Regions from separate parts of the Homo sapiens genome. Here regions 1, 2 and 3 are each linked to region 4. The links come from fine-mapping of genetic effects on gene expression. A gene starts in region 4. Each other region holds a variant in brackets. All regions are shown on one strand. Distances are between the middles of the regions.

The links.
Region 1: its variant is fine-mapped to the expression of GASK1B in whole blood (INTERVAL, PIP above 0.99).
Region 2: its variant is fine-mapped to the expression of GASK1B in whole blood (INTERVAL, PIP 0.92).
Region 3: its variant is fine-mapped to the expression of GASK1B in whole blood (TOPMed, PIP above 0.99). The same link has a PIP of 0.9 or more in blood mononuclear cells.

What each region holds. Positions count from the first base shown.
Region 1 is chr4:157,961,733-157,969,842 of GRCh38, reverse strand. The region is part of intron 2 of LOC105377509 (a long non-coding RNA gene); the gene reads left to right. It also overlaps the pseudogene RPL6P11. Among named protein-coding and RNA genes, the nearest start is that of GASK1B-AS1, 200 kb to the left of the region's middle. The variant A/C (reference allele first, on the strand shown) is at 3,338.
Region 2 is chr4:158,244,640-158,252,733 of GRCh38, reverse strand. The region is part of intron 12 of TMEM144 (transmembrane protein 144); the gene reads right to left. Among named protein-coding and RNA genes, the nearest start is that of TMEM144, 38 kb to the right of the region's middle. RefSeq lists an enhancer at 7,368-7,869. The variant A/TA (reference allele first, on the strand shown) is at 4,611.
Region 3 is chr4:158,004,287-158,012,396 of GRCh38, reverse strand. All of the region lies in intron 1 of LOC105377509 (a long non-coding RNA gene), which reads left to right. It overlaps LOC124900801 (a long non-coding RNA gene), which reads left to right and starts at 2,642. Exons shown (of 2, transcript XR_007058348.1): 1 at 2,642-2,808; 2 at 3,268-3,499. The variant G/T (reference allele first, on the strand shown) is at 4,895.
Region 4 is chr4:158,168,523-158,176,632 of GRCh38, reverse strand. It overlaps GASK1B (golgi associated kinase 1B), which reads left to right and starts at 3,608. Exons shown (of 5, transcript NM_001128424.2): 1 at 3,608-3,765; 2 at 5,034-6,167. The coding sequence starts at 5,258. GASK1B-AS1 (GASK1B antisense RNA 1) reads right to left here and starts at 5,881. Exons shown (of 5, transcript NR_147410.1): 1 at 5,153-5,881. LOC101928007 (a long non-coding RNA gene) reads left to right here. Exons shown (of 4, transcript XR_007058350.1): 3 at 2,367-2,519; 4 at 2,825-2,945. RefSeq lists enhancers at 4,232-5,431, 5,605-6,125.

The DNA of each region.
Region 1 (8,110 bases), 210 kb after region 4:
TGCAAGATGGTTGTGGAAACAACTGAGAAGCTGGATACTAAGGAAAATTATTTTTATAGACCAATATCTTTATTTAAAAGAAGCTAAAAACACTTTCTTATTTACATTAATGAAAGTCTGTGAAAGTAGAGGGAAAAGAAGCATGCCATTAATTTTAGTTCATGTTCCTTTATATTTTGCTCTTCTGTCCTGTGACTACCAGCCTTTAATCTCCTTTTCACCCAGATATTCAAGAGTCTTATTGGAACATCTGGAAAATAGCTTATTTATAAACAAGCCTGAAGCCAAGAAGGCTGATGGCAGTGGGAAGGTTGAAAAAAGTGACCTCAAGGCTAAAATGCCCAAGAAGGCAAAGTCCCACCGCAACTGAGATCTTGCCTTTTTCAGGGGAATTCGCAGGTATTCCTGATCTGCTATGTATTCCAGAAAGGCCATGGGCAAAAGGAAGTACTCAGCCGATAAATCCAGGATTAAAAAGAAAGAGAAGGAGGTCCTTGCTATGGTTACAAAACCAGTTGGTAGTGACCAGAATAGTGGTACCCATGTGGTTAAACTTTGCAAAATGCCTAGGCACATCAGTAGATGATGTGCCTTTAGGGCTATTGAGCCATGGTAAAAAACACTCCAGTCAGCATATGAGAAAACTGTGAGCCATCATCTCTCCTGGGAACATTCTGCTCATCTTCACTGGGTGCCATCGAAGCAAACAGGTGGTTTTCCTGAAGCAGCTGAGCAGTGTTTTGCTGCTTGTTATTGACTGAAACTTGGATCCTCAATCAAGTTCCTCTGTGTAGAGCACTGAAGAAATTGTCATCACCACCACCACAAAAATTGATATCAGCAATGTGGAAATCTCAAAACATCTTACTGAGGCTTACTTCAGGAAGAAACAGCTGTGGAAGCCCAGACAACAGATGGTGACGTCTTTGGCACAAAGAAAGAAATATGAGAAGGCTGGGTGTTGTGGCTCACGACTGTAATCCCAGCACTTTGGGAGGCTGAGGTGGGCAGATCATGAGGTCAGAAGTTCAAGACCAGCCTGGCCAACATAGTGAAACCTGTCTCTACTAAAAATACAAAAATTAGCCAGGCATGGTGGCGCCTCTAATCCCAGCTACTCGGGAGGCTGAGGCACAAGAATTGCTTGAACCCAGGAGGCGAATGTTGTGGTGAGCTGAGATCGCGCCACCGCACTCCAGCCTGGGCAACAGAGCAAGACTACATCTCAAAAAAAAAAAAAAAAAAAAAAAAGAAAGAAATATGAGATGACAGAGCAGGGCAAGGTTGACCAGGCAGCTGTGGACCCGCAAATTTTACCAAAAACCAAAGCTATTCCTCAGCTCCAGGGATACCTGCAACCTGTTTGGCCTGAAAAACGAAGCTTATTCTTAGAAATTGGTATTATAAATTTCTTACCAGTAACATAGTTAAATAACTGATACATGAAAAAATCAACCAAACAAAAAGAAACATATTATCAGCATCATGGATTTTACCAACACACTTTAGCTGAGTATATTTTATGTGTAAAGAACTACTAATAAGCCACGGAACACCTTGTTACTTCATTATACAGAATTCAGTTGGGGAATCCAGCTACTAATAATATATGTTAGACATTTATGACATATTACATTAAATATCTATGCATAGTATATATTAGTCACTAATAAATGTGAAATGACTTATAAGTGCTATTGAATGTGATAATCAGAATTAAATAAAGTAAACATCACCAGGGTCTCATTAGTTCTCTGAAAAGTTCATATTATAAATGGGCCATTAAAGTTACATGGAAAGTAAGAGTAGAGTTTGGAAGAAATAGAATTAATCTGCCTGATTCTCTACAACCTAAAGTTATGGGATATTACTGGAGTGAGAGCTTTAGTTATATGAATGGCACTATAATATCAGGTGGTTTTAAAATCATCCTTCCATTATTAAGATCCACTTGTAATACTAAAAGAGTTTGTCTTTTTGTAAGGGGAAGGACATTACTACCCTAAAAACAACATATATTCTATTGTGCTACGAATCAAGAGTATACAAGTAGAAAGAACATGGCACATCAAGGCTGAAGAAGGGGCTGATCCTTTATAGCTTAGTTATATTTTTGCTACACTGTTTGGATTCTGAAATAAAGATATATGGTTAAAGAAATATGTTGTGTAGCCGCTTTTATTGACAGAATGAGAATTGATTTTGTGCATGCCATGCAGTCCAATGATATACAGTTGTATATACAAATGATATATAATGTTTCTTGATTTTGAGAAGCTTTTACATGGCCTGGGAACCTAAATACAAACAAAAGAAACCATATAAACTATGTGTAATGGGATAGACAAGTGGGATTATTTCTAGCCATTCATGATGAATACTAAAAGGGTGTTGTGCTCCTCCAGAAGCAAGGAAGAGGAAAACTCAGCAAAGCATGGAAATTAGGCCCTTTTGCCACCAAATTATTTAAAAATACATTGACTACTTACTGTGTTCATTGCGTGGGCAAAAAGAAGAAGCTTCTGCTGTCATATTCTTTTTCTTTTTTCTTTTTTGAGATGGAGTCTCGCTCTGTCACCAGGCTGGAGTTCAGTGGCGTGATCTTGGCTCACTGCAGCCTCCACCTCTTAGGTTCAAGCTATTCTCCTGCCTCAGCTTCCCGAGTAGCTGGGATTACAGGCACGCACTACCATGCCCAGCTAATTTTTGTATTTTTAGTAGAGACAGGGTTTCACCATGTTGGCCAGGATGGTCTCCATCTCTTGACCTTGTTATCCGCCCACCTCAGCCTCCTGAAGTGCTGGGATTACAGGCATGAGCCACTGAGCCAGGTCTTGCTATCATATTCTTAATGAAATAATATTAATTTAATGTGTACATAGTACTTTAACTTTCATAAAGAACTTTAATGTATGATCTTACTTGATTCTCACAGCAGTCCTTCAAAGTAGGCATACTTCTTTATCATCATCTATTTAAAAATGAAATAAATAAGTAATGAAAGTAAAAGTTGAATAAGGTATTTGAAATGCCTTTCTTTCTTAGAGAAGTTATATACTTTTTTGCTTCTTTTTTAATTTTGGAAAGAAAATTTGACTACTTTTGTTATTTCAAGGAGGCTGTGTAGATTGGAAATTATATTTTGTTTGGTTGTTCCTCAAGGTGTATTTTTCTCCCCCATCTAACTTTTGCTCATCAGGACACGCCAAGTTGATGCTACGTAACAGAAAGGTGTTGATGAGAAAGCCTTCATCACCTCATTAGTTTATAGTCAAATGTGATTTACTTGGGAGGAAAGTAGCCACTGTCACCCCACCTGTCAGGATAAAAGAGAATA[A/C]AAAGTTACAGCTGTATGCCTAATGTAATTCTGGCTCCATTGGGGAGAATAAAAATAAATGTTCTCATTTTAAATTGCCTCAGGAAAAAGCCCTGAACATTATTAACCTGGCGTAATGTTTTCAGGCAGTCACTACTGTAAAACTCAGGTCCCTGAAAAGCATGATGCAGTAGCCCATATTGGCTTCTTATGGAAATAGTGTTAAATTATGCAACTTCAAGTTTGCCTCAATATATTTTAATAATTTAACACTGCTGTTGATTTCATCAACAGGCAAAAAGTATTGATTCATGAGAAAAAGCACATAATTTCATATGTAAAATCTAGTTAAGCAACAATTAAAAGAAATGCAATATTGTAGTCACCATTATATACCTTTTAAGTCTTGTAGGTAAAGGGAGAAATGATATATATTTGGGAATACTGTAAAAAGATACATGATACTACAGTGGGAAGAAGGGGAACAAACAGGAAAGAGTAAGGTATATCAGGGTTTATGCTGGAGTGTATTGAATTATTAATAAATACTTCAATAGCATCCTGAGATTATAGATAGCATACATGACTTTAAAGGAAAATAAATGTTTCATCTGGGACCAAGTAAAATATCAACAAGTAGGAAGTTTTATCATGTTTCTAACAAATCCCACCCTTCTTGATGCGAATTGTTTTGTTAGTGCTGGTGAAACTGTATACTTGATTTCAGTAATGTTGGGTACCATGTCTATGTTATTTTTCCTATTTTATGGATTTTTTTACCTTTTGATTTGTATTTTGCTTTTGAGTAGGTAAAATTCTTTTACTTTGCCAACCAGTCTTGGAGATAAGTCATAGATATGGTTTCCAATCATTCAAGAAAATACTTCATTTGCTTGTTTGTACTTAGAATCCACTCTGTTTTCTGAATATTTGCCCTTTTGAGTTTCATCAGATTGTGTGTTGTTAGACAGTCCTCACCAGATTCGTGGAGCTTTTGGTTTTTATTAGACATTCTTTGGGTATACTTAGGAAGTAGTTTAATGTCTTTGAATTCAAGTTGCAGAGTCTGATACTTTGCTCACAGTCACAGTGGGAAAATAATGAGAAAAATAACCACCCCAGCCTTTGTTACCATAGCGGAAAGTGAAGGCGAGAGGAAAGGTACTATAAATATACAGTTTCTCCCCGTCTCTACCGAGATGTCATCAAGTATTAAAGCTACTTGTTGCTGAATATGAACACCATATAGAAGTCATTGGTGAGCTTTATTGAAATAACACCATAAACTGAATACAGACTTAGGGTTGAATAGTGGGAAATTATATGCTGCATAAAAGGAAGGAAATTTTCCCTGGTGTTTTAAAACTGCATATGACAGTGTAAATCAGCGATAAAGGCCTGGTAGCTATCAGGAAGAAAGAGAAGCTGTTGAATGGGTTTTGATAATTATCCCAAAGCTTAGATAGACTTCAGCCTTTGATATATGTAGCACAATCTAAAAATAGCTGATTTAATTGCTCAACAGTTGTCTGCTCATTAGGCCTTAACCTTAGTAATGCATCAATGAATGACATCCAAGGCTTCAGCCCTCCAAATCTCTGCACTTGAAAATCCTCTTGTCATGCTCACCTTAATGCTGTTCTCTAAGGAAGGTATTTGCCAATGGGGAAGACTCTTGCATATAGAATATTGGAGTGTGGTTTCAAAACTTAGGTTAAAAGCTGTCAAATCTGTGCCTTGAGTGAAGGCCAAGTTTTCCATAGATCAAAGGTAATTCAGTATTGACTGTAGTCCAACTTCCCCTCAGGCAAAAAATGCCAGTTAAGCTGCTTTGGTTTAAAACAGGATGTCAGGCTAATTTTATCTTTTTTTTTTTTATTAAATTTTCTTGTGCAACTTCTTTATCCAGCTCAGCAATCTGATGCTCTCATTTCTGCATGAGACTGCATTTTTAGAGCGAGGAAATCATGGTCTTATCAAACGGGCAAAACCCTTACTTGGAAATATGGGAAAAGTCATTCTAACCTAGTTGTTCTTCAGTATCTCTTGCCTCCTCCTTAGAAATAGAAATTTTATCAAGGGATGCAGCCTTCAAAACAAAAACTGTATTTTCCCTTCTCCCTTACTACTAGGTGAGGGCTGGTGATTGGGTTCTAGCCAATAGGGTATAAATGGAAGTGATCTGTGCAGTTTCTAGAAGTATCCCCTCAGAAACAGCTGGTGCACATATTTGCCCTTTGGTCTTTGTCTTTTCCATCCTGTGGTTTGGAACATAGATGTGATGGCTGGATTATCATCTTGGAGTATGATTGTGAGGGCTGTATCCTAAAATAACAGAAGAGAAAAGTGTAACAAGTCCCAGTGTCTGAAGACTTTTCAGAACTCCTTTGTCAGCTTTGTAGGACTACAAAGGGCATTGCAGGCTGTTTTGCTTGCCCTGAAACTGTGAAAATCCAGAGGGAAACTAAACTTCTAACTTGTTTATTTTTATTTTTTATTTATTCATTTAAAACTTTTATTTTAGGTTTGGGGGTACATCTGAAGCTGTGTTACATAGGTGAACTTGCTTCGCAGGCATTGGTTGTACAGATTATTTTATCACTCCGGTATTAAGCCTGGTACCCAATATTTATCTTTTCTGCTCTTTTTCCCCATCCTACCCTTCACCCTCATGTAGACCCCACTGTCTGTTGTTCTGTTTTTTGTATTAATGAGTTCTGATCATTTAGCTCCCACTCATAACTGAGAACATGCAGTATTTTGATTTCAGTTCCTGTGTTAGTTTGCTAAGGATAATGGCATCCAGCTCCATCCATTTTCCCACAAAAGACATGATCTTGTTCTTTTTTATAGCTGCATAATAATCCATGGTGTATATGTATCACATTTTCTTTACCCAATCTGTCATTGATGGGCATTTAGGTTGACTCCATGTCTTTGCTATCATGAATAGTGCTGCAATGAACATTCGCGTACATGTGTCTTTATGATAGGATGATTTCTGTTACTCTGGGTATATATCCAGTAATGGGATGGCTGGGTCGAATGGTAGCTCTGCTTTTAGTTCTTTGAGGAATTGCCATACTGCTTTCCACATTGGTTGAACTAATTTACACTCCCACCAACAGTGTATAAGCATTCCTTTTTCTCCACAACCTTGCCAGCGTGTGTTATTTTTTGACTTTTTAATAATAGCCATTCTGATTGGTGTGAGGTGATATCTCATTATGGTTTTGATTTGCATTTCTCTAGTGGTCATTGAGGTTGTTTTTATTTGCTTGTTGGCCGCATGTATGTCTTCTTTTGAAAAGTGTCTGTTCATATCCTTTGCCTACTTTTTTAATGGGGCTTAAACTTCTAACTTATCAAAGCTATAGTATCTAAGTTTTCTAGTATTCATAGCTGAAACTAACATTAATCAATACACCTTTAAAACAGTTTTGTTTTTTATTTGCGTGCTGGAGTTGTTCAGGTGTGATTAAATTAAGCACACCAATACATACATATAGACTTTTTAATGTTATAGTTTGAAAAGCCTACCATAAATACGTGGAACTTCAAGGAATGTTCTTGAAATATATGTATTTTCAAAGGCAGACTTGTTTAAATATGACAGAAAACTAACTTTGGTATGGTGATTTAATGCAATTGTACATGCCTGAGAATCATTCCTATAAAATTGCTAGCAATAAATATTTAAATAAAACTAATTCAATTAAACATTTTTACTTAAGGTAGGGATTTTTATTTGTAATTCCAAAATTCTTTGACTTGGATAAGAACATTTATACTAGCTTTGACCAAATAAAAGTTTTATAAAGCTTGCTTGAAACACAAACTAGTATGCTGGCTTACTAATTTAGTTTTTATCAATGAGCATCACTTTCAGTAGAGATAGGTTGTCTGATAATAACACACAGAGCCATTATGTGTTAATGTGAATAATGTCATCATTTTGGTGAGGCTTCTGTCTTTGCTCTGCCAATTCTTCTTGGTAAATTGTAGACTACATTGCTTTCTGAATTATTCTCTTTCTGTAGGCAGGAGCTTTATAGGCAAAAAAAAAAAAAAAAAAAAAAAATGGGATGTATATTAGCACCATTGCTGTCAAGTACCCTTGCTGTAGAGAAACTTCTCAGACATTAACTTTTCTGCTGTATCTGAATTACCATGTGCTGTTATTTACTTCTCTAAAAGTTCTTCTAAGTATTTTTCTCCATAACTTTAGGCATGTCCACCTCAGTCATCCATGATGATTGCAATTCTCTAGCCAGTCCTTTCCAACCTTTCCAGGATGTCTCTGCTGCTGTCTCCTACTCCCCAATTCTTCCATCTTCTCCTAAACTTTGGAGCATTCTCTAGAAATCAAGAAAAAGGAACAACTGTAGCAATGTGTGGAAATACTTTCAGTTTTTAATAAGCTTTTGCTACTGTTATCTGCAAACACCAATTAAATGTCAACCGGGACGGAAACGTGATGATATCATAATGGATCATGTTCCCAATACTATTTAATGATGGTATTTATTTATCAGATAATTTTACCTGGATTATATTTATATATTAACTTCTAGTTGATTTTTAACAATAAGCCCATTATATCAACCTTATTTATCAAAATTATAGATCATTGTTACAATTTGGTGACACTGACATTTTGCAGACTTGTTTTCTGCTGGGTAATAAACCACCAGAGGTTATGTGGGTGGCTGATGACAAAGAAAATTCAGTTGGTATCTCAAGAGAATTCCTACTTTTGGCCACAGTATCGTCTCATCATTAATGAGATGCACT
Region 2 (8,094 bases), 76 kb before region 4:
TGGGTTCAGGTGATTCTCCTGTCTCAGCCTCCCAAGTAGCTGGGATTACAGGCATGCATCACCAAGCCCAGTGAATTTTTGTATTTTTAGTAGAGGCAGAGTTTTACCATGTTGGCCAGGCTGGTCTTGAACTCCTGACCTCAAGTGATCTGCCCACCTCTGCCTCTCAAATTTGGGTCCTGTTTTTCCAAGCAAAGAGGAAGACATTAAAAAGACAGGCAGCTGGCTGTGTTAAAATTTCAGACTTGCATTGTGTAAAGCTCACACTTTTCTGCAGGATGGCAGACAGATTGGAGGGGCCAGAATGGATGCAAGGAGACCAATTAGGAGGTGACTGTAGTCTCCCAGGGAAAAGATGATGATGGGTAGATGGAGAGATGGAGATGGATCTGAAGGGTGAGGAAGAAATGCAGAGAGGGTGTGAAGAATGACTTCGTTGGACTTGCTCAGTTATGTATGGGGTGCCTGGTCTTAAAGATGGGAACTACTGAGAACCACTTCTCTGTGTTGCCCAGCCCATCTTTGAATTAACAACGAAATATCTTCCTGTGTTAAGTAGAAATATTTCATTTCCTATAAGTTCCATCACTAGGAGTACAGATAGATCGATTTTAATATCTCTCCCACAAGATAAATCCTCAATCATTGAAAAATAACTCTCATATATCCCTGGAGGCATCTCTTTTCCTGGTCAGTATTTTAGCTCTTTGACCATTTTTCATATGGAATGGTTTCAAGCTTCCTTATTGTCCTGGCTGCTCCCCCTGAATGACTGCCATTTTGTCTATATCCTTCTTTATGTTTAAAGAGTCTAATTTATTTATTTTTTTAGTGAAAGTACAGAGACTTGTTGCAAAGTGAAAAGTACACACTCAAGAAAGTGGAGTGCGGACATACTCAAGAGAGAATCATACAAGGGGGTTGGGGTTCCTATTTTCATCATTTCTTTAGCCGAGGGGTGGAATATTCATGAAGATTCCTGGAAAAAGGTAACAATTTCTCAGAACTGTGGTGTCACTCATTTTTACACCAAATATGGGTGGTCCCAGAACTGTCATGGTGCTGGTGGGTGTGTGATTTGTATGTTAATGAGTGTATAATGAGGTCCTAGGTGAAACCTAGGGCAAATCCAGCACCATGTTGGGTTCAATTGGTCTTAGCCAGCTTGATCCACATGCTGTTTTTCAGGGTCTTATCAGCCCATGGCCTCTGCAGCTATTTCAAGTTTCCTTTTGCTAGTCATGTGAAACTGCTGCCTGGGATTTTCCTAATCTGTGACCACCCTGTATTATTCCTGTCTCATCCCCCCCACTTAAAGATTTCTATCCCTTATCCTTAAGGCTTGATGTGGGAGGAAGTCAGTCTTCTGTATCTACTTCCTGCTGATTAAGGGCATTGGCTCTGCCAATGAGGGCATGGCAATCTCTGGCTGCCTGGTCTAAGGGTCCCAAGGGTGGGTCATCAGGAGAGTCTGAATCCAAGGCGGAAGACTCCAGTATTCTAAGGGAAGGTTTGAACATTACAAAGTAAAACAAGACTAGCACCTCTCTAATTTTAGATACATCTAAGATTACAATCAGATAATAACACTATTTAATAATACTATTAGATCCTTCTTAAAAGGAAAAATAACAATGGTTCATGGGTAAGTCATTGTAGAAGACACATAAGGGTTCTGGAAAAAGAAAAAAGGAATGGAGAGGAAGCAACTCTAGGCAGCAGTTGGTATCCTGCCAGCTTCAAATCTGTAGGGAATAGGGCTGGTGTCCTCCCTCTCTGGTGAAAATTCTGGCCACTGAGGTCCAACAGGTTAATAGCCTCACACTACCCAAATTTGGGCAAAACTTCAGGAAAGGTAGTGGGAATAGAATGCTGTGTTTTTGGTGCAAGAGTTGACTGACTTGTTGGGGGGAGTGGGTTCATAAAAGCAGGACCCTGGGCTGTTAGAGGCTAATCCTCAGGGCTAATCTGATTCATGAGTATCTCCCCTAATGCTCACTCAAGGACTCAGTGAAGAACATGCACCAAACTTGGGTTCCTACAGCCAGGCCATGCAAAGTGTAGGCTTAGGGAGACTCATTTCCCCCAGCATAGATGCAAGGGGTCAGAGGGTAGAGGGTGGTTCTGTCTTTGCTGCCTTGCAGCCAGGTCAGCTTTGAGGGAAACCCAGAAAGGGAAGTTCTAACTGGGCTCCCACAGGAAACAGGGTTGGGGCAGGATAGACGGGTTGACAGTAGGAACACGTGGCTCTCCTGGCTCCACAGTGAAATTCTCACTTCAAAGAGTGGACTTTTGTCTGGTTTCATTTTGCCTACTTCCCTCACACTTCCTTAAAGGTCTTGTGTTTCTAGTTTACTGGAAGAATGCAGAGATCAGAGGTAAATTTGTGTAATAAATCTGAACAGAACAGAAACAAAGTCCAGGATGGAGGGAATGTGAAAACTGCCAAGGAAAGGTCTTTTGTATTATTAGTTCGTAAGATTAATGCTAACTAATATGTAACTATATATATATATATATATATATATATATATATATGTTATGTATTAATTAACAAAATCAAATAATTATGTTACTAACTAAATTATATATATATGTTCCCTTTCTTCAACTTAAAGAATCAGAGTAGATAAATTTGCCTCTGTTTGATGACCAGAGATAGGTCTTTGCAAGTTAGGTTGGGGCCAGTTGAATTGTCTGATTCAGTGTGATCCTTAGCACTAACAGAAGCCACTTTAATCCCAAATTCTACAAATAGAAGCACCCGAAAACCTTGCCAAGTGCAGAACAGCTTATTTAAACACACACACACACACACACACACACACACACACACACACACACACCTGGCAGTAGGCTTTGGATTTCCCAGCACCTTTTTTTTTCTTAATTTTTAAGACTGCAATTCTCACCTAGATACTGGTACTAATGCAGAATAGGTATTCCATAAACATTTGTTCAAACAACAAATACACTAAGGTGATTTCCACGTATATTTTGTGAATTTGAAATTGATGCAATTACTTAAATTAAAAAATGGGTCTTCAGTTACAAGCACTCTACAATCTAATTACGTGAATACATTGCTAAGCGCTATTTTATTACCTATGTAGACAGAAGAATAATGTTCTCAGGGAATGAAAAATTTTTTTCCCCTTCAATGTTAAGATTTTGCTAAAACTGTCCAGTCTCCTAGAGAAAAAGACTAATTATAGTTGGGCAACAGCAATGGTTTTCCTTCATCAAAGGTGGATGTTAACTCTTGGAAAGAGCACACTAACATTCTTCCCAAAGCAGAAAGTTTTTTAACTTGGATTTCTACTAAGATAATAGATCATCTCATTCTTCACCAGGGAGTAGCTTACTGACCTATACATTGTTGTGGTAGTAACTGCCTGTGTTGGCATTACTGTAGACATACTGACTAAAGTGTGTTGGTAAAAATATAATTTATATCTAGCTTAAAGATTTAATAATCTAAAATGAATTTCCCAATGAGTAACAGATATCAGATATAAAAGAATATCAGGGCCGGGCACGGTGGCTCACGCCTGTAATCCCAGCACTTTGGGAGGCCGAGGCGGGCAGATCACAAGATCAGGAGTTCGAGACAAGCCTGGCCAACACTGTGAAACCCCGTCTCTACTAAAAATACAAAAATTAGCTGGGCGTGGTGGCGGGCTTCTGTAATCCCAGCTACTCGGGAGGCTGAGGCAGGAGAATCGCTTGAACCCAGGAGGTGGAGTTTGCAGTGAGCCGAGATCGCATCACTCCACTCCACCGTGGGCAACAGAGCGAGACTCCATCTCAAAAAACAAACAAACAAAAAAGAGTATCAGAAGTATGAAAACATCCAACTGATGCACTGATGGCATTAAAACTAAATGGAATCATTAAAGTCCTTCACACAAAAGGTGCTTGGCTCTCAGCTTTATTCCTCGCAGCTGTAGGTTGTAGACTTTTAAATATGCGTCTTCAAGGACTGCTTTAAGATATATAACTGACAGTACCTATGAGTCCTGCAGATAACAGGTTTGCTTTTGTTTTCTTCTTTAGAGTTTAGGGGTTTTTGTCCTGTTTCTACAAAAATACTTTAAAAATTATTCTTATGATATTTAGGCTTTAGTGTTCAGTTGATGATGCTTTTCTAAACTGATTGGCATGTAAGTATTTAAAATTTTTCTTTAAATCAGCTGTCAAGAGGCAATTAGGTGTCTGCATTGAATAAGTACCATTGGACATCTGTTAAATTTTGCTTGTAGATGACATATAAGATTTTTTGTTTATTTATTTATGTGGTTAGTTATTTTGAGACAGAGTCTAGCTCTGTCACCCAGGCCAGAGTGCAATCTTGGCTCACTGCAATCTCCACTTTCCAGGTTCAAGCCATCTTCCCATCTCAGCCTCCCAAACAGCTGGGACTAGAGGCATGCACCACCACAGCAGGTTAATTTTTGTATTTTTGTAGAGACAGGGTTTTGCCATGTCACCCTGGCTGGTCTTGAACTCCTGAGCTCAAGTGATCTGGCCACCTTGGCTTGCCAAAGTGCTGGGACTACAGGCATAAGCCACCATGCCTGGCCCCAGGTTTTTTTTTTTTTTTTTTTTTT[A/TA]ATTCTTTGCTTTCAGCTTGGCCCTCTCTCTTCTTTTAATACTTGTAATCTTATCTTAGTCATTTTTTTAAAACAGAAAAGAGCAAACAGTCATTTTCTTAAGTTTAGAAATCCTTATTTTATAAGAAAACTGGCCTAGCTAATCTAAATTGCACATTTCAGAAATATGGTATATGTGCTGTCATGCTTTTTTTTTTTTTTGCCTATTTTTACATAAATAATTAGCCAAACTTTAGGACCTACTCTAAAAATTCTAGAAAGAGCTTCACTGGGATTTTACAGGAATTATACTGAACGTAATTAGAGAGAACTACCTAATTATAACAGCGAGATGTTCCATCAGAAATGTGACAAGTCTCCTATATTTGTTCTGATCTTCTATGTCCTCTAGTACATGTTTGTAGCAAAGTAAAATACAGTATTTTAAAAACCTGGCACATTACTTGTTAATTCTTTAATTAGATTTTATGTAATTTTTGTGGTTATTATTAATAGCATTTATTTTCCTCGTTTTAACTGGTTGTTGGTGATACATTGGAAGGCAACTGATTTCATATTTATTTTATATCTCAAGCCTTACTAAATGATCTTATTGGATGTTAAATTTTTCAGCTGATTCTTTTAAATTTTTATTTTAATTTTTAATTTTTGTCACCAATAAATTGAAATCACAATGTGTACATTTTTTAAAAATGTAATCTGCAAATTATAATTTTCTTATTTCTTTTCCTATATTTATTCATTTCATTTCTTATTCTGGTGTTTCCAAACTAGCTAGATCTATAGGAAATATCGTATAATAGTATGGAGAAATCCTTGACTTCCAATATATGGAGAACTCTTATGTTTCATGAAACTCAGGTATATAATTGCTATTTTGTTTTGATAGACATACTGTACCACTAAAGCTTCCTTTTATTTCTAGCTTATTAAGAGGTTAGTATAGTATTATCACGTCCTTTTCATATTTGATATGGTAGAGTAAATGATATTAATTAATTTATGTATTATGAACGATCCTTGCATTCCTGAATTAAACCCTATTGGGTCATAGTATATTAATCTTAAAAGTTACTTTTCTATTCAGTCTGATGTGTCTTTTTAAAGATGTCTTTACCAAAAACAAAACAAAACATTCCTCACTGTTTTTCAATTAATACTAGGCTTTTTGGTTAGGGATTCTCTTTGAATAGGGTTCTTATATGTAGTTAAGAGGATTTTCAATTCAGTATTATTATTGTAGTCATGACCAAAATAATTTTCAAATGCTTTAATATAAATCTATACTTGGTTTGTACTTCTTCATACCTATAATTACTAATAAACTATGATGACTAATTTGTAATTTTCTAAGGCTTCAGCATCTTACATGAGATAATAACCAATTCTTTAATATAAATAAATCTTTTTTTGTGAGGTAGATGAAATATATGCAGAGAGATTTACAACATATTTTGGGCATAGAGTTACTTTTTGTAGAAAGGAACTCTGACTACAATAAATGAGAAATGTTCACGAAAGTAACTTAGAGGTTTATAAATGTTTCAAGTTGTTCTTGTGTATTTAAAAAAAATAAAAATTCTGATCATAGTCCACATATTTTTGAAACAAGTTTATTATTTTTTAAATCTGAGAATGTTACTTGTATTATCAAATAATGGATTTTAAATCAAAATATTTCATTTACAATGATTGAAATGATGTTTTAAATCTAAAATTGAATAATCATTTTAAAGATCAGGTAGAAGTACATTCACTTTATGGTTGTTAGAGATTAGCAACATCAATCTCCTTAGAACCAGGAATTATTTGCTACTACAACTGCATATTAAGACAGGTCTATGATGACTTGATTGGGGAGGGGTCTTTGGATCAACATTGTCTTTAATAAAAATTCTTATAAAAGAGTATTTGCATATATTCCTCAACTGAAGACTTTTTCTACAAGTAAAGGTAACTGGGAAAAGTTCCAAAGCAATTTTTTAAAAAAAGATTAAACATTTTAAAATCTTTAAATTGTTAGGGAGACAGGGTCTTACTATGTTGCCCAGGCTAGACTTGAACTCCTAGGCTCAAGTGATCCTCCTGCATAGTTGGACTACAGGTAGATGCCACCATGCCTGGCTAGAAGGGGAGAAGTTCTCTGATTTTGTGAGTTTTCTTATTCTTTCTTTTTTTTTCTTTTTCTTTTTTGAGGAGACAGGGTTTCACTCAGCTGTCCAGATTGGAGTGTAGTGGTATGATCATGGCTTGCTGCAGCCTTGACCTCCTGAACCCAAGGAATCCTCCCTCCTTAGCCTTCTGAGTGGCTGTGACTACAAGTGTTCCTCACCACACCTGGCTAATTTTTAAATTGTTTTTGTAGAGATAGCGGTTTTGCTATGTTGCCTAGGCTGGTCTCAAACTCCTGGGCTCAAGCAATCCTCCCGCAAGTGCTGGGATTACAGGTGTGAGCCACTGCTCCTAACTTGTTTTATTTTGCTATCGACAGTTTGGGCTAGGTTATATGACCCTCACCCCCAAAATTAACTGAGCATTTATTGTGTTCTTGGTAGTGTTTTTAGCACTTTACTCATATTCTCTCAGCTCTCTTGGTTGGTTATCCCCATTTTCAGATAAGGACTATACACACAGAGAGGTTAAGAAACTTGGCCAAGGTCACACAGCTAGTATGTGACAGAGCCAGGATTTGAACCCAGTTGGACTCTTGAGACTGTACCTTTTGTTGTCGTTGTGATTGCCCAGGCTGACATCAAACTCCTGGGCTCAAGTGATGCTGCTGCCTCAGCCTCCTGAGTAGCTGGGAATATAGATGCATGCCACCATGCTCGGCAAAGTGATTTTTAAAGAAAACATACATACACACACACACACACACACACACACACACACACACACACACACACACACTCTTACTAGAACTATTTGATGAATGCAATTTTAAATTCCCATCATTTACATTTGAAAAGGAAATGGCAATAGCCTCCTGTTACCATGCTGTTTTCCTACAAAATTGCTGGTTTGACATGGAGGTCTTTGGGAGACATAGGAACCAATATAAACATCTATTCCCAAAGATGATTTACCTCAGGGGATACTTTAACCTTTAGGATAAAAAAAAAATCTTTCATCTTGTTTATCATATTTTAAACAAATTTCCCTCTCTCATATTTCACTGGGTTATTTAAAATCACTTCAGGGAAATTTAAGTCAACGACAGCATTTTTCCATTGGAGATGGGGTGGAGAGAGACATGATGTTACATTATAATTATCATAGCTCTAGTATTTTCTTTCCTAATTAGGTATTATCACATTCTGAACATTTTATCTGTCAAATCCATTCATGAGTTGTTGGCCCTGGACCTAGGCACCACAGGCAGTTTTCAGATAATAACACAAACATATTAAATACTTTACTCACCTGAATGCATTCCCATTTTCTTTTCTTTTTTGAGATGGAGTCTCGCTCTTTTGCCCAGACT
Region 3 (8,110 bases), 160 kb after region 4:
ATAAATTATACTACATGAAAAAGATGGACTGCTCATCATCAACATATTCTAATTAAATCTCTTCTGTGAACTGAAGTGTGCAGTTCACAGTATGCATGAAAGCTTTACAGGCTTTCAGTTTCTTAAAGCATTTGAGAAGGATCATAAAACTGTAAACAAACAGAGTCCTCTCTAAATAACCAACTTAAGTCTCCTATCATAATTAAAATAATTTTCTAAAAGCACATGATCCAAATTGAGCCAAGAATTAATTTAAAAAATAAACAGAAAATAAAATAATATTAAATATGAAACTGAAACTATCTACAAAATCACCTAATAAACAGAAATATGTTATATGATGACAGTGAAGTTTACATATTCTTCCCACTTTGCTAGAGATCAGTGCTTGTAGGGGAAGAAAATTTGAGAATTATCAGGATGATATTTCTTCTTATTTCACCAGGTACATGTTAACATCTCAGTTTTCCTAAACTAAATGTATGCATTTTTCATTATAAAGTACCTTTACTCACTTAAAGCTTCCAGTTAGCAGAAAGTTCATTTCTATGTGGCTTTGGGATTTGTACTCTTTATTTGGGCTAAAACCTTGTGAAGCAAAGACAGCTGAGGGGAAAGGACAAGAAGCTACATGGAATTCTTCACCTTAAGGCTGGAGTCAGAGAGGAAGGGAGTGCCAGCGACCCCAGACGTGTGTCAAGGTGTTCCCCTGCCAGAGACTTGGAGCCAACTCCAGCCACTACCTGGTGAGATACTGTACTGCCACTGCAACAGAACCATCTCCAGGATCCACTTCACTTCTTTACAACAGCTTGCTCTGTGACAAACCCAGTGCCTAATCCTACCTCCCTGCACAAAGAAGATGATTCAGGTGCACACTCTTTGCCAAAAACTTTAATATTGACAGTAGTCTTTATGTTGTGTTTCAGTCCCACTGATAAGTGCAGGAGGCAACTTGAGAAGAACTGATTGTGTATAAACTAGAGCCTTGGTAAATATATCAGAATATCAACACTGTTATAGCTGGAAGGCACTGGCTTCCAAAAGTCTTGGCCACATCCCCTAGAGGGGCACAGGAATGATGCAGGGGTGGGGAGGGGGCACTAGGATGGGGACCACAGAGAGTTCTGCTGTCTTTGGGTTCCACATGTCAAACAAGCACCAGCTACAAATGACAGTTCCAAAAGACTCAGCATTGGTACATTGGAAAATACCCAATAAATGTGGTAAACATAAAAAAAGTGAAATTTGACCATTTATCAAAGTTATTTGTGATTATCAAAACAAAACCCCCCAAATTTAAAATGGCCATATTTAAACCATAGACTGTAGTGACTGTACAGGCTGCAATGATAGTGAATGAATATTTTAAATTCAGTTCTGGTGACAACTATGACCAAAGGTGATATTTTCTAAATTTATTCCTTTAGAAAATAAGTGATACAATTTCATTTGTTTAATTTTTTACAAAGGTAGAATTCTTCATAATCGGGAAATGCTATTGCCTTTTATTCTCTAAGAGTTAAGCAATGGCCATAAACTTCAGTTCTATTTGATCATTTGTTCACATCTGCATGTTAACAGGTTGGCTTGTGATGAACCGTATTCAGCTAAAGCCACCGAAGTACTGCAATATAGGGCAAAACAAATCATACAGTGTTTTTAGTGGGCTGTCAAGATACTTCACGTTTTTTTCAAGCATTTTCTACTGCATTATATAATGTTTCCTCTAGATATTTCAAATATTGCACAGTGTAAGATCCCCATATTCACTCTTCTCAAAACAGACCTTGGCAGGCCAGACATGATGGCTCATGACTGTAGTCCCAGCACCGCGGGAGGCTGAGACAGACGGGCGATTGCTTGAGTCAGGGAGGTCAAGGATGCAGTGACCCATGATCACACCATTGCATTCCAGCCTGGGAGACAAAATGAGACCCCATCTCAAAAAAAAAAAAAAGCCCAAAAAACAAAAAAAGTAAACAAAAAGCAGACATTGGCCATCATTTCCCTTTAGAAAACTAAACCTTAACCTCCAAAGAAATGCCATTCCCTCATTTATACTCTCCTTGTGCACTGTAGAGACTTCTCTCAAAGCACTTATAGTGATAGATTCATTAAATCTGTCTATCTCTCTCTCTATCTATTATCTATCTATCTTGCTTGGTTATGAACTTACCCTATTTATTCCCTCACACAGACTTATGTGCCCTATGCTCTGAGGGCTTAGGCTGTATTCATTTTTACATATTCAGCTCTCTGCTCCAAATCTAGCACACCTAGTTATTTAACAACTATGTATTAAGTGCTTACATAGAGTCAGACTGGTGTAGTGGAACAGCGCATTAGCTGTGTGATTGTCAGAAGTGTTTGAACCAGAGCAACTCCATCTTGAATAGGGGCTGGTAAAATAAGGCTGAGACCTACTGGGTTGCATTCCCAGGAGGTTAAGGAATTCTTAGTCACAGGATGAGACAGGAGGTCGGCACAAGATACAGGTCAAAAAGACCTTGCTGATAAAACAGGTTGCAGTAAAGAAGCTGGCTACAACCCATCAAAACCAAGATGACCTCGAAAGAGATCTCTGGTCGTCCTCACTGCTCATTATATGCTAATTATAACACATTAGCATGCTAAAGGACACACCCACCAGCACCATGACAGTTTACTGTTGCCATAGTAACATCAGGTTGTTATCCTCTATGGTCTAAAAAGGGGGGAACCATCAGTTCGGGGAATTGCCCACCCCTGTCCAGGAAAACTCATAAACAGCCCAGCCCTTGTTTGGTATATAATCAAGAAATAACTGTAAGTATCCTTAGTTGAGCAGCCCATGCCGCTGCTCTGCCTATGGAGTAGCCATTCTTTTATTCCTTTACTTTCTTAATAAACTGACTTTCACTTTACTCTGTGGACTCACCCCAAATTCTTTCTTGCGTGATATCCAAGAACCCTCTTTTGGGGCCTGGATCTGGACCCCTTTCCGGTAACATGATCATGGGTAGTTACTTTATCACTCTTTATTTCCTTTTCTTCATTTTTAAAATGTGTGTAATATGTCATTTAGTTTGCAAGGTTGAAGGGATTGGAGCACAAACCTTCTCAACAAGCCTGAGGAACTTGCCCTCAGGTTTGTCAAGGAGCAAGGCTGCAGCCGACAAATGGAGCCACTGTTCTCTGTTTCTCTGCTGTGTCAAGTTCAAAACTGATGACCCAAGAATGGAGCTCATCAATTTCAAAAGGAAATAATTCTATGCTTTTTTTTAGCCTCAGAAGATAAATATTTCTTGTGGTACCTCTGACATGGCAACATGCCCATGCACGTCGGCAGTGAATAGATGGGGTTGGTGGATGGAAATGGCAAACAGACCGGACAGACCTCACCCAAAACTTAACAGCAGCAGGCCCTGAGAGGGCCAGTGAATCTCTCCATGATCCTTGGTTAGTGGTCAATCTGAAGCTTTTCTTACCGAAACAAATAAAGATATGTCTACAACAACTGATATCGACTGAGAGGCATATCAGGCAGGGGTAGCTGCCTGAACTCTGAAAGGGACAGAGAGGAGGCACAGTGAAGACAAAGAAGTAATGTGTAACTTTTGGGGAATGAGGAGGCTACAGAGCCTGATGGTAAAACTATGTCAGCTGCTCAGGAGGGAGAAGCTGGAAGGGAGGTTTGTTGTTCTTGGCAGGCGGATGTGGAGGTTGGAATGAGTGTAGTCCTTTTAAGTTTTGTTTTGTTTTCTTTCCAGAATATCAGTGACCTTTTCTCCCAATCTAAAAATTTAACTTAAGAGAATATATTATGTGTAAACTTGGGGCAATAAGGGCAAAACAAAACAGCAGCAAAAACAAGGCAATAGCATTTGCTAATCTTTACCTGACAGCTGAAATAGATAGCATTTGTAAAGATGCGGCTCAAAGAAAGTACTCACAATTGATAATTACTGTTGTTGTTGATGTTTAGTTGCGGATCTGTTATGAGTGCCATTTATTTGTCACTAGGCTTTTGTTTATGTGCAATTCATTTTCTCTAATATATTCATAACAAATTTATACAAAAAGTATCAATTTCCCATTTTGTATTCAATGGAATTGAAGTTGAGAAAAATTAAATTAACTGAATAAAGTCACATAGACAGGAAGTCAGAAATCAAATGCAGACTAGTATATGTCCAGGTTCTTTCTTTTACATGGCATTGCAAATATTTAACATACAAAGTGTGAGGTTCTAACCTATACAAATATAGAAAATGGAGGAGCAAATGGATGGCAACTAAAGTAGGAATACACTAAAGATCTATTTTCTATTAATCCACACTTTTCCTTATTTTGACATTGTTTCTATCCCAAGCACAAGTAAGTGTTTCCATTTGGATGCTAATAGGTGCAAGCTTCCCAGCTTCACTTTTAAGACTTGTTAAAAGAAAAACTTTAGTTGAATTAAATTTAAGAGAGTTTAATAGAGCAAAGAACTATTCGTGAATCATGAATCAGCAGCCTCCTGAGCCAGAGTAGGCTCCATGACTTCAGCACAGCCACGGATGTAGGGACAGAAAAAGCAAAGTGATGTACAGAAAACATAAGTGAGGTGCAGAAACAGCTAGGTTGGTTACAGCTTGGTGTTTGCCTTATTTGAACAGGGTTTGAACAGTTGGCCACATCTGATTGGCCAAAACTTGGTGATTGGCCTAAGAGTAGGTTACAACTCCATTTAGTTTATAGTTCAGGATGTACAGAGAAACATTTAGGGTGAACTTAAAATATGTAAGGAGATGGCCTTAGGCTAAACATAATTGAACCGACTTAAGAGATTTGAATTGTTCCCATAAATTGTGGGAAACATCAATAATTTAAAGATGATCACTTATATCATCTTTCATCAAACTATAAT[G/T]CTGTATTCAAAAAGCAAGAAACCACTGAGAAGAGAAAAACAACAGGTTTACAAGTTATTAATAGCCTAAGTCACAGCTTTGGAAGACAATTAACATTTTTAAAGACAATTATAAAACTTATGAACATGGTTTCCATAGTAACCACTGTTTGCTATTTAATTAGGATATTCTTAAAATTCTGTTATAAAATAAAACACTTCCAGCAATTGTCAAGATATAAAAAGGTTCATGCTGTGTTATGCATGGTAAGGGTTTTCCAGAATTAATAAGGAAGTGTGAACTTGTTGGTTTGTTGTTCTGCTACAGCTGAGGGAAAATGCTGTAATACAATGAGTAGGCACTTAGCCAGGAGGCCATTTCCTAATAAAAACAGTTAGCATTGTGCCATAAGCATAAGAAAAACAGCTTATAAAACACCATATGAAACTTGAACTCAAGGAAAAAGAGGATATGATTTTTTGTAACATCCTAACTTAAAAATAAATGTTCTCTCTTTTGGCCACCAGTATAATACTTAAAATAGTTTGATAATTATTTCTACAGTTGTGTCACTTTTTCTTTTGAGCATTAAAGTAGGTGGCACATCATCCAAAGTCAGGCATTTAAAACATGCACCTTAAAAATAGTTTGTTGTCCGCCTTAAAATACTCTTGTTTATGAGCCTTCAGCAAAGTGTTATTTTTAGCCAACTGAAGTACTGATATAGGAGTAAATGAAAAGAAAAAAAGAAATTCTGGTGGAACTCAACAGAGACAAAGCACACAAAATTTGAATATATTTAGGCCGTAACACTCCAGTTTCTACTCTGTGTGAAAATATTACAAATAAGCATAGTTATTCAAGAATTATAACTTTCTTGCTTAGAAAAGAAGTAGTATACTTAAAGATTTTCAAAAGGACCACACATTTTGGAAATAACAGTATAACTGCTATTGCCAATGCCTTGTTACAAATTATTCTAAATCCTGTATAGTAATTTTCTGCTTAAAGCCAAAATAACAAATACAGTGTGAAAAACAAAACCCCATCGCTGATTGACGAAACCTCTGTATCATATGTGAGAGACATACACAGCAGATCACATGTTTTTGTTGTAGTCTTAGAAATGATGATGACTTTGGAAACATATGAATCTGTTTAGAAGTTTGGAGAGGTCTTTACAAAGGAAGAAAACAGATAGCTGAGCTTTAGTGGGTAAATAGAAGTTTTCCAGGGAGGGAAGAGAAATAAACATCCAGTCAGAAGCCTAATAAGAACCAAGTCTCTAAAAGGTGAAAATATTGGTTATGCTTGGTGTGGCTATGGTATAAAATTGTGCAAGGGGGAGGGAGAAATAAATTCAGAAAGTTAGTTGGGATTTTATTTTCCTGTTCAAAGTGAATGCAAATTCAATCTCAAGCGTGTCTAACTAAAAAGATAATTAATTAGCTTATGTTACTGAAAAATCCAGAGTTAGATAAATGTAAGCTTTCAGTCTCTCAATTCAGGGTCTGATGCAATTAGTAAGACTCAGTTTCTTTCTCTTCATCGTTGAGCTCTGCTTCCCCTCTGTTGGGTTCATATTCAGCTACAGACTCTCCTCATCATAAAATGGGCCTTTGCCTTGTATCCTGAACCAGGTCCCTTCCATGTTTGACCTGTAATTTCTTCTCATTGAATCAGTTTGGTCACTTGCCCATTCCTGATCCAATGCTGCTCTGCACCATTTGGCCAGGTGTATGGTGCTACTTTACCATTGAAGTTGAGAATAGAGCTACATTTGAATAATATAGGGGGCATGGGTCCTGGCAAATTAAAAAAAAAAACTATAATCCATCCCTTAGGCTAGCAAAAGTACAAACAGAACCTTATTCTTAAATTCCTTTTTCCCAGTTACTACATTCACTCCAAGTCTATGGCCTCTGGTCAATATTAATTCCTTCTCATCAGGTCTGGGTGTAGTTCCTCATGGTCATCAAGCATCATCAAACAAGTAGAGAGTTTATCTTTGTCATATGCAAAACACATTGATAGAAAATACAAATATGTACCACAAAACTTCCATTGGATGGAAAGAATGGGAAACAAAACACGGTGGCCTATCTGGCTCAAAAAGAATAGCAAGGATTATTTGCTCCATTTTCCCTGACACTGTAAGTTCTTTTGTCAGCAGACCTGAATTAGTCACCCTAGTTGTATTTTACTCTATAGTTTTCCTTATTTTTGTCCTCAGTGGTCATGTGTGAGATGTGTGTGTTGGGTATCCCCCATCTGTTTCCCTTGCTATCCGATTAGGAATTTGGGATATGCTTTAGTGGTTGTACTTGCAGCCTGTTTTATTCCAGTGTTGATAGGACAATTCCATTAAAACTTAAGTGGACTTTCAATCTGTCCTCTAGACAATTCCATGGGCCAGTGCCAAAGGCCAGAAATCTCCTCAAGCTGGTCTTTGTATGAGAACTAGGCCCCATGTTTTTCTTAATTAATACCCGCCTGACACATTGCTCTGCCTATCTTCCTTACCCTGAGAATCTGCATCTTGCCCCTGCCTTGGGCCATTTAACATAAGGACTGGGGCTGATGTGGGATCTTTATACTGAGGTGACCATCCCTCTAAGTGTAGTTTAAAAGAGGAGCTTTTCGAAGAATCCTGAGGAGGATGGCTTCTCTCTGGTTTTAATATTACCTCCTGTGATTGCTCCTACTTCCCTGCTTTTGCTGGCAATAACTTTAGTTTGGAGGAGAGAATCCAGCTGTCTGAACTTTCAAATTTTTCTGTGACCTCGAATGGAAAGTCTCAGGCAAGAAAGGTATTTCTTGGTAAAGCCATATATTTTTTTCTTCCTGTCTTTACTTAGAGGAACAGATTTCAATGTCAGCTTCTTTTTAAAAAGAAGACTTACAGTGAACCATAAGAACTAGCAAGCATATGCCACAATTCTACATTTTTTAAATTCAAGACGATTAGTTCTATTGTCTCAGTAAGGATAGCTTCTGAACACCAAGCTAATACGTGTGTAAATTTACCTATTTGTAACCTCCGTTACCAAATTACAAGTGTTACCCAGCACGAAGTGTTAGAGTCCTCCTCCCTCCTTGATTCTTCCAATTATGAATTTAGTGTTTGTCATTTGCATTGTTCCATTCTTAGTGTTAGCTTTTGTATGTTCTGATGGCACGTGAGAGAAAAGACAATCCAGAGTATGACAAAGGGGGTTTATAGACTAACACAACTG
Region 4 (8,110 bases):
ATACAATAAGTAGGACAAAGGTTGTAGCCAGGAACCTATGCTAATGCTGGGATTTTAATTATAATAGGGTTATGGGTCCTAGAAATCAGGACTATGAGGAGCAAGGGATAGGGTCCCCCAGTGGAGGAGTCTGTGCAGCACTGAACCAAGAACAAGGTATCCATCTCCAGGTCTGCAATCTATGCAACAAACCTGGGTCAGCAGTGGCAAGGAAAAACTTAATACTTAGCTTTTAAGTGATTGGAGTCCTTATATATTGTCCTTCACTTTCCCAAGGGCTCTCAGGAGATGGGCAAGCTGCCACACAGTCACAGCAAGTGACACACCTGACAGGAATGGGGGAAATGAGAGTGCTGTGGGTGGAAGAATGAGGCCCGATTCACTATCTAATCTGGTCCAGGAGTTGTCCCAGACTGAAGGCAAATAGCCTTTACCAAACTAGGATCTTACTATTGGAAGCCTTGAAGGATTTACGGATTACTTCATTGCCAGTGAAACCTAAGACATCATTTAATTGTAAAAAGGTGTTAACTTGCTCCTAGAACTAAGTATTTAACTCATAGTACAGTGAATTATAACTCTGCACATTAGAAGCTTTTAAAACTGTGGATTCCTGGGCCCTACTTTAGATCATTTAGAATCTCTGGGAAGATGGATGGGGTCTAGACACTCATATATTTTTAAAATTTTCAGGGATTTTACTGTTCTTTAATATTTAAACTTAATTTTTAAATGACTGAAGTAATATGCGTTTTTTATTGTAAACAAATTATTTGTTCTACTCTCCTATGTAGATTTATAACATATATACAAGGTATAAAGAATATAAAATAAATAGCTATTTATGTACCACCTTTTCCAATTTGATTGAAGGATAAGATATATATAAATATGGAAAAGTACAGAAATCACAAATGTATAGTCAATGTGTTATCCCAAAATAAACATACTTAGGTAAATCCCATCTAAATGAAGAAACAGAACATTCCCACAATCCTGCTTTGCTCATGTTTTTTCTCCATCACCATCCTTGCCCCTCCATAAAGATATAAAAAGTCCTCAGGTAATTCCGATGGTCCCTACCATTATCTTACTGTCTACTTTTTCACTTTATTTCTCTCATTGTTTTTTAAGAAGAGAAAGTACTTTAGGCATGAGAATTATTTGTCTCTCTGATCTAATAATATTAATAATAATGAATACTTTGAGTTCTATATGTTCACTCACAGATTATATTGTAAGTTATACACGAATGTTATATTGTGGCAACAAATTTTCAAGCTAACGCTTGTTCAAGGAATTTAGCCTTATTTTTCTAAAACTAAATTAAACTTCTCTGTTTCCCATGCTACCTGATGGCAAAAAACACCTTTCCATTCAGTTTCAACAGAGACCATGAGCAATTGATGGCAATTGCTTCCACATTCGAAAATGAGATATGGATCCGCAGTGCTAAGGGAGGTGGGTTGCTGCATTGGGAAGTCTGAGGTTGCTGGAGCAAATGATGGTGACCATGTCCACTGGATCACTTGTGGGGCAGTACACAGAGGCCCAAGTTAGAAAACCAGCCTGCAGGTCAGCTTAAATGCTGCCTAAGAGAACAGCCTGGAGAGATGAGGTGATCTCAACAGAACAGGGGGCTACCAAGTTCCAAGGGACTAAGGGGCCATCAACAGCCAGCTAGAGAGATGCTTTGATAGTGGTGTCTTTGAATTAACTATCTCAGAGTCAGCTTTACACACCTGCCAAACCTGGAGAGCTTATAAGTCAATTTGCAGCAGTATCAATGGAGTAGCAAGGCCATTTCTGCTATTATTGCTTCTCTCTCTCCACTACCTTGGAACAGCCAGAGCCAGGCTCAAAGTGGGGTGAGCGGCTGGGTGAGTGGTTAAGGAATAAGAGCTCTAGGCAGGAACAAAAAAGAATGTAAGATGGGTCTCCTCTGTCCCTTTTCAGTAGATTTTGGCTATGCTTTTTGAGGGACTGCTATCTTCTGGAGAAATTCTGGGAATTTAAAAGAAATTTTTAAAGAAATTGACTGTGATATAGAATCAAACATATTAATTAGTTTATGTGTATTATGTGTCTGTATGTCTATGGCTAACAACTGGAGAACTTTTACAAAAATTTAAGTATGACTGGAAAAGTCATGGGGACTGCCTGAGTTTCCATTTAAGAAAGTTGAAAAGAGATATCAGGCCACAGAACAGGTTTCAATGGGCAGTGGGGGGAATCACTAAAATTGTGCTCTGATTATATCTGACAAGCCCCATTTATCCACTGTATTGGCTATATCAATATGTTGGCTACAAATAATTCAGTGTGCTTGTCCTCAATTCTACCATGATTGCTTTGCTGTGGTGCAGTGGTGACTATCTGTCAAGGCCTGGGCTGAGGAGAGAGGCCTCTGAGCAGTTTAATGAGGCATCATGGGGGATAAAAACAAACACATTGCTGAATATTTCAAATGATCATTCCAAGGCTGCTATCTCATTCAGTCATCAGAAGAAACCGATAGGGTAAGTGCTATTATTTTTCTTTTCTTACACATGGGGGAAACTGAGGCTTAGAGAGGTAAGATTACTTGCCACAGGGGACCACACGTAAGAGGTAAATGAGGAGAATTTAAAGCCAGTCTGCCTCCCTCTTCAGCCCATTCTCTGAATATCATAGTTCAGAGTAGATAGTGTAGCCTCCACGAATCCCTATTGTGGCTATAGCAGGGGACAGTGTATTGTTCTTTTTCTAGGAGACATTTTTGGAGTGGGGGTGGGAAGGTAGTCAACGAAATTTACTAACTCACACAACTCTCCCTATCTCGTAGGCATTTCTCCATGAAAAAAATAGCTCTAAAAACAGCTAGAGGAGATGTCTGCTTATTATAACTGGCCTCTGCCAAAGGCTTACTTTTAATTGTTATAGAGCCAGGTCAGTTATTCCTTTGACTGTGGAAATAATAAGATGGTTATAAAATGCAGCTTTGGTATGGTTTCCTTGCAAGAAGTTCACATTTTCTATCAAGAAAATAATTCTGTGTGTATGGAAGTGTGTGCCTAAGAGTTTTTGAGTGCAGATAAAATTGTTTTGATGCCTGAATTCTCACAAAGTTTAGCCAAAATATCCAGGTACTTCCAGGCTACTGTCAATATTGGGATTGCTCCTTCTCATTCCTCCATGTGGCAGGACTTTTAAAGAGGAAAAAAGGACTGAGTTTAGAGTGCTGAAATAACAGCCCGATTATAATTTTTGTCAATTTACCACTTGGACGTTTATTCTCTCCTTCCCTATATATTCCAACTCCTTGCTCTTTTTGCATTGTAAAATATAGTATTTTTAGGATTATACACCATATGCTAATCTTTTACCCACTCTTCAGTATCACAACTTTCTTTCTCTGTGGGGAGGAAAAATCCCTGTCCCCTTTCTGTCTTCTTGCCTTTTGATTCTATTTGCCATAGTCTAATTGACACCCCAAGGTCATCAGCCCCTGCCTTTGTGCTAGGACACGCAAACCACCCAGGCCAATCCCTAACCTGTTTTTTCAAAAAACCTCCAATCAGAGAGAATCCACGACTTCCTTTTGTGAACTGTTGCACCGTGCAATTGCACACTATAAATGTCTTTCCTTATCTGTGTGTACTCTTATCTCACTGTTCTATTTTTTCTCCTCATTTATATTAACTCTTTCTTACCTTTTTTTCTGAACTTCTAGGCCTTCTCTTTCCAGAACTGGTGGAAGACAAATGAAACGGCCAAGATGGTAAGGTGAGTAGTTCCTGGGAACGCTTGTGCTCTAACCCCAAGTTATGTGGGATGGACACTCGAGGGGTGATGGCATTCCTCATTTTACAAGTTACTTGCTTGGCTGCGGCTGCTCCACCAAGATAGCAAACATTCTCGATCTTTTGAACTTCATGAGACTGACATTTCTGAGTCTGTTTGCGAACAGGACACTAGAGGGCTCCCAGGGGTTAAAAATAAGTGGAAATTTATTTGAATGAAAACTGATTCTCTACGGCATTTCTTTTTTCCGAATTTAAAATTAAAGTTTATTTTGTTAACTATTGTTTTTAAAAGCTTTGTATCTCTTAAAACCATGCAGCAGTCAGTTTCCAAGTTTTGCTTTGCAATCAGTAGTTTTCAAGGGAGCTTTTAAAGCTGAACTGAAATGTTTGAAATGTGGAACACTCTTGACCATGAAATATGTTCTACTTACATGCCTCAGCCTTTAAAAGTTCTTTGCATTAGAGTCAAGGATTACATTCTTCCTGGAGCCAAGCATGGGGCCAGCTGTGTAAGTAAGGTTGCTTACGAGTTTCTTCTTTTTCTTTTTAATAGTGAAAAAACAGAACTAGAGATGCTTTTATTTTCTTTCAGCTGACTTCGGTGGAAAGAAAAGAAATAAAAAGCAGTCAGAGTTGTGTTGTGTTGTGTGTGTGTATGTGTGTGAGAGAGAGAGAAAGAGAGAGAGAGAGAGAAACAGAATAAATGCAACTGCTTCCAAGATATATGGACATTTATGGCTTTGTATTATACTAACAATGTAAGCTAATGGAACATATTATTAATATGAAGTACAATTTGTACCTTTAGACTAAGAGAATATGTTTCTAAATTTTATTGTTAATACTTGCTGCTTGTACTTAGTTAATTCAGGACTTTAAAAAATAAAAATGGTATAGGTATAGAGTATTAAAAAATTATCTATTACTTGTCTTAAGTTCTTTCTGAATTTCAAAAAGGAAAAGCCCAGGTTTGTCACATTTTAACGCTTTTGCTTCAGAGTCAACTTAAATGACTCTAGGTACAAGTTATAAAACACTCTTGGATTTTTGTGGCTTGTTTTCACTACTTTCAAGTGACTATCAAATCTATACATCTATCTCGTTTGCATGCTTTTAAATTTTATTTTTAAAAACATTTAGTGGTGATATTTATGAAAGGAAATGATTACTTTTTTTCTTGACTCTTGTAGAGGAACTTAAATGGTTTGAAATTGTGACTCAGTTAACTCTGTATCCATTCATTCCCAGAAACAAGCCGCATTTCTCCTTGGGGAGACTGATAATTTAAAAGGTTTGTTGTGTCAGAAACATTCCCAGCTTCATCACCAACCCTTTCCTTCCACCTCTGCCCACTGGAGACCACTTATATCCCGAAGCGGACGCGGCAGCTGAAGTCAGGAAACCATGCATCACATTAGCAGGAGCCAACTGCAGACTTTAAACTCCGTTCAACATGTGGATGCGGCAGAGAAATGACCTGTCCAGACAAGCCGGGGCAGCTCATAAACTGGTTCATCTGCTCCCTGTGCGTCCCGCGGGTGCGTAAGCTCTGGAGCAGCCGGCGTCCAAGGACCCGGAGAAACCTTCTGCTGGGCACTGCGTGTGCCATCTACTTGGGCTTCCTGGTGAGCCAGGTGGGGAGGGCCTCTCTCCAGCATGGACAGGCGGCTGAGAAGGGGCCACATCGCAGCCGCGACACCGCCGAGCCATCCTTCCCTGAGATACCCCTGGATGGTACCCTGGCCCCTCCAGAGTCCCAGGGCAATGGGTCCACTCTGCAGCCCAATGTGGTGTACATTACCCTACGCTCCAAGCGCAGCAAGCCGGCCAATATCCGTGGCACCGTGAAGCCCAAGCGCAGGAAAAAGCATGCAGTGGCATCGGCTGCCCCAGGGCAGGAGGCTTTGGTCGGACCATCCCTTCAGCCGCAGGAAGCGGCAAGGGAAGCTGATGCTGTAGCACCTGGGTACGCTCAGGGAGCAAACCTGGTTAAGATTGGAGAGCGACCCTGGAGGTTGGTGCGGGGTCCGGGAGTGCGAGCCGGGGGCCCAGACTTCCTGCAGCCCAGCTCCAGGGAGAGCAACATTAGGATCTACAGCGAGAGCGCCCCCTCCTGGCTGAGCAAAGATGACATCCGAAGAATGCGACTCTTGGCGGACAGCGCAGTGGCAGGGCTCCGGCCTGTGTCCTCTAGGAGCGGAGCCCGTTTGCTGGTGCTGGAGGGGGGCGCACCTGGCGCTGTGCTCCGCTGTGGCCCTAGCCCCTGTGGGCTTCTCAAGCAGCCCTTGGACATGAGTGAGGTGTTTGCCTTCCACCTAGACAGGATCCTGGGGCTCAACAGGACCCTGCCGTCTGTGAGCAGGAAAGCAGAGTTCATCCAAGGTAACAGATTCACATGCTTCGTTATTTGCAGCTGTTGGGGATTCTGGTTCATTTTCTTTTTTCCCTCACTCTCTTTTTCTAAATGATTTTTCTCCACCCACGGTTCACATTTGGACAGCAGCAGCAGCAGCGTGTCTTTCCATGCGCTTGGCATTCTTTATTTTCCCAGCCTGGGAGGATATGAGAGTTCCAGGGAAATGCTGTATTGGACATGCAAGAGTAAGCCCATACTGTATAATCTTTGCTCTCCATTTCCCTCGCTTCACTTCCCAGTGGCTTATTAAATCTAATTAAAGCCAACGGCAATTTGCATGATGAGGAGAGGAAGCTAGGCTGGAGGCAAAGAACTTGCTGACAGTCAGGCATACTATTAAATAGGTTACTATGGGAGGAAGTAGAAGTTTTTAAAAGTAAGGGGGAAGCGGGTTATCGTTCTTGAGCAGATGGAATCTTCTTAAGCCGCGCAGAGCCAGACCATGTTAGGTTTAACCCCCCCTTTTTTTTTCAATGGATTTAACCTCTTTATTTAACAAATAAAAAGAATGAGCAAAAATTGGTGATTTGTTCAGTATGTATACTAACTAGCTGTGTGGTTTTATCAAGCCCCTGACTATGATCTATTGAGTCTGTCTTTCAAGATTCTCCCGTCTTGGGTGACAAACATTTTGGCAGGTTCTAACACATGTAGCCAGTTACTGCAGTTGCCAGCAAAAGGACTGGTCTGCGGTCATGCCCATGCCATATAAAGGATATTCTCTGAATATTAAAGCTATTCCAGGGCTCGAATACAAAGTACAGTGAGTCAGTGGCTTATGTTTGAATGCAGAATGATGCCAGAAGTTACAACTTTGAATCCAGATTGGCCCAAGAGGCTAAAATGTACCCCAAAGAGATTATAAGCTGAAAGGATACTTAACTTTCTCCATGTTACCATGAAATTTAGCATTTCAGTGAGGTTCCCAGGGAGCCTAGAATGGAATGGATTAAAATCCCTGGGAGTGGCTGAGACCCAACTGCATTTCCAATGGCTTTAGCATTATAATTTCATTTTAAAATGGATACCCCTGGAAGTACCAGTGATTTACTTAGAAAAATTGGACATTCCCTACTGATGGTGGTTCTTGTCTAAGTGCTCCAGATTCACAGGTATGCTTTGATGTCTCAAGTTTATAAAGCAGTCCACCACAGTTATGCCAATGTAAGAAACCTTCTCAAACATTTAATCTAATGTTGATAAAAATGAATTTTTATTGGGTGCCCACAATTTGCTAAGGATTATACAAATTGATTCATATGTGTTGGCTCCTAGAATTTTCATAACAATGCTATGAAGTGGGGACTATTATTATTTCCATTTAGTAGATGAGAAAATTGAGGCTTATTGAGACAAAGTAATTGGCCTCAACTCCCACAGCTAGTAGGTGGCTAAGCTGGGTTTTGACTATAGACCCAGCAAACTTCAGAACATAACTTCTTAGCCACTGGACTTAGGTGAATATGTAACTTATTATCCAAACTGGAACCGTGTGGCGTGAAAGGAGATGCTGGTGGGCATTGGGACAACAGGCCCACACTGACTGTTCTGAGCAGAGTAGAGCACAGGATCCCCCTTGTTATGCTGAAATCCCATTCATTTTCATGTCATAAAGGCCCCAGAGAGGAGAAGATGAACTCCTGTGTATATCCTGAGGCAGAGTTCTCTGATATGTCCTTTGAGCTTCCCTTAGACGCTCTTAGACTACTGTATTGGGAGAATGCAGTAGTGGCTAAGAGCCTGGGCCGTGGAGTTGGACTGACTAGGTTTGAACTTACCAATCATACGACTTGGAAATGTTGCCATGTCTCTTTATGCCTCAGTTTCCTCAGCTGTAAAATGACAATACTGCCTACCATATGAGATTGTTGTTAGTTAATACAGGGAAAACACTTAGAACCAGTATTTG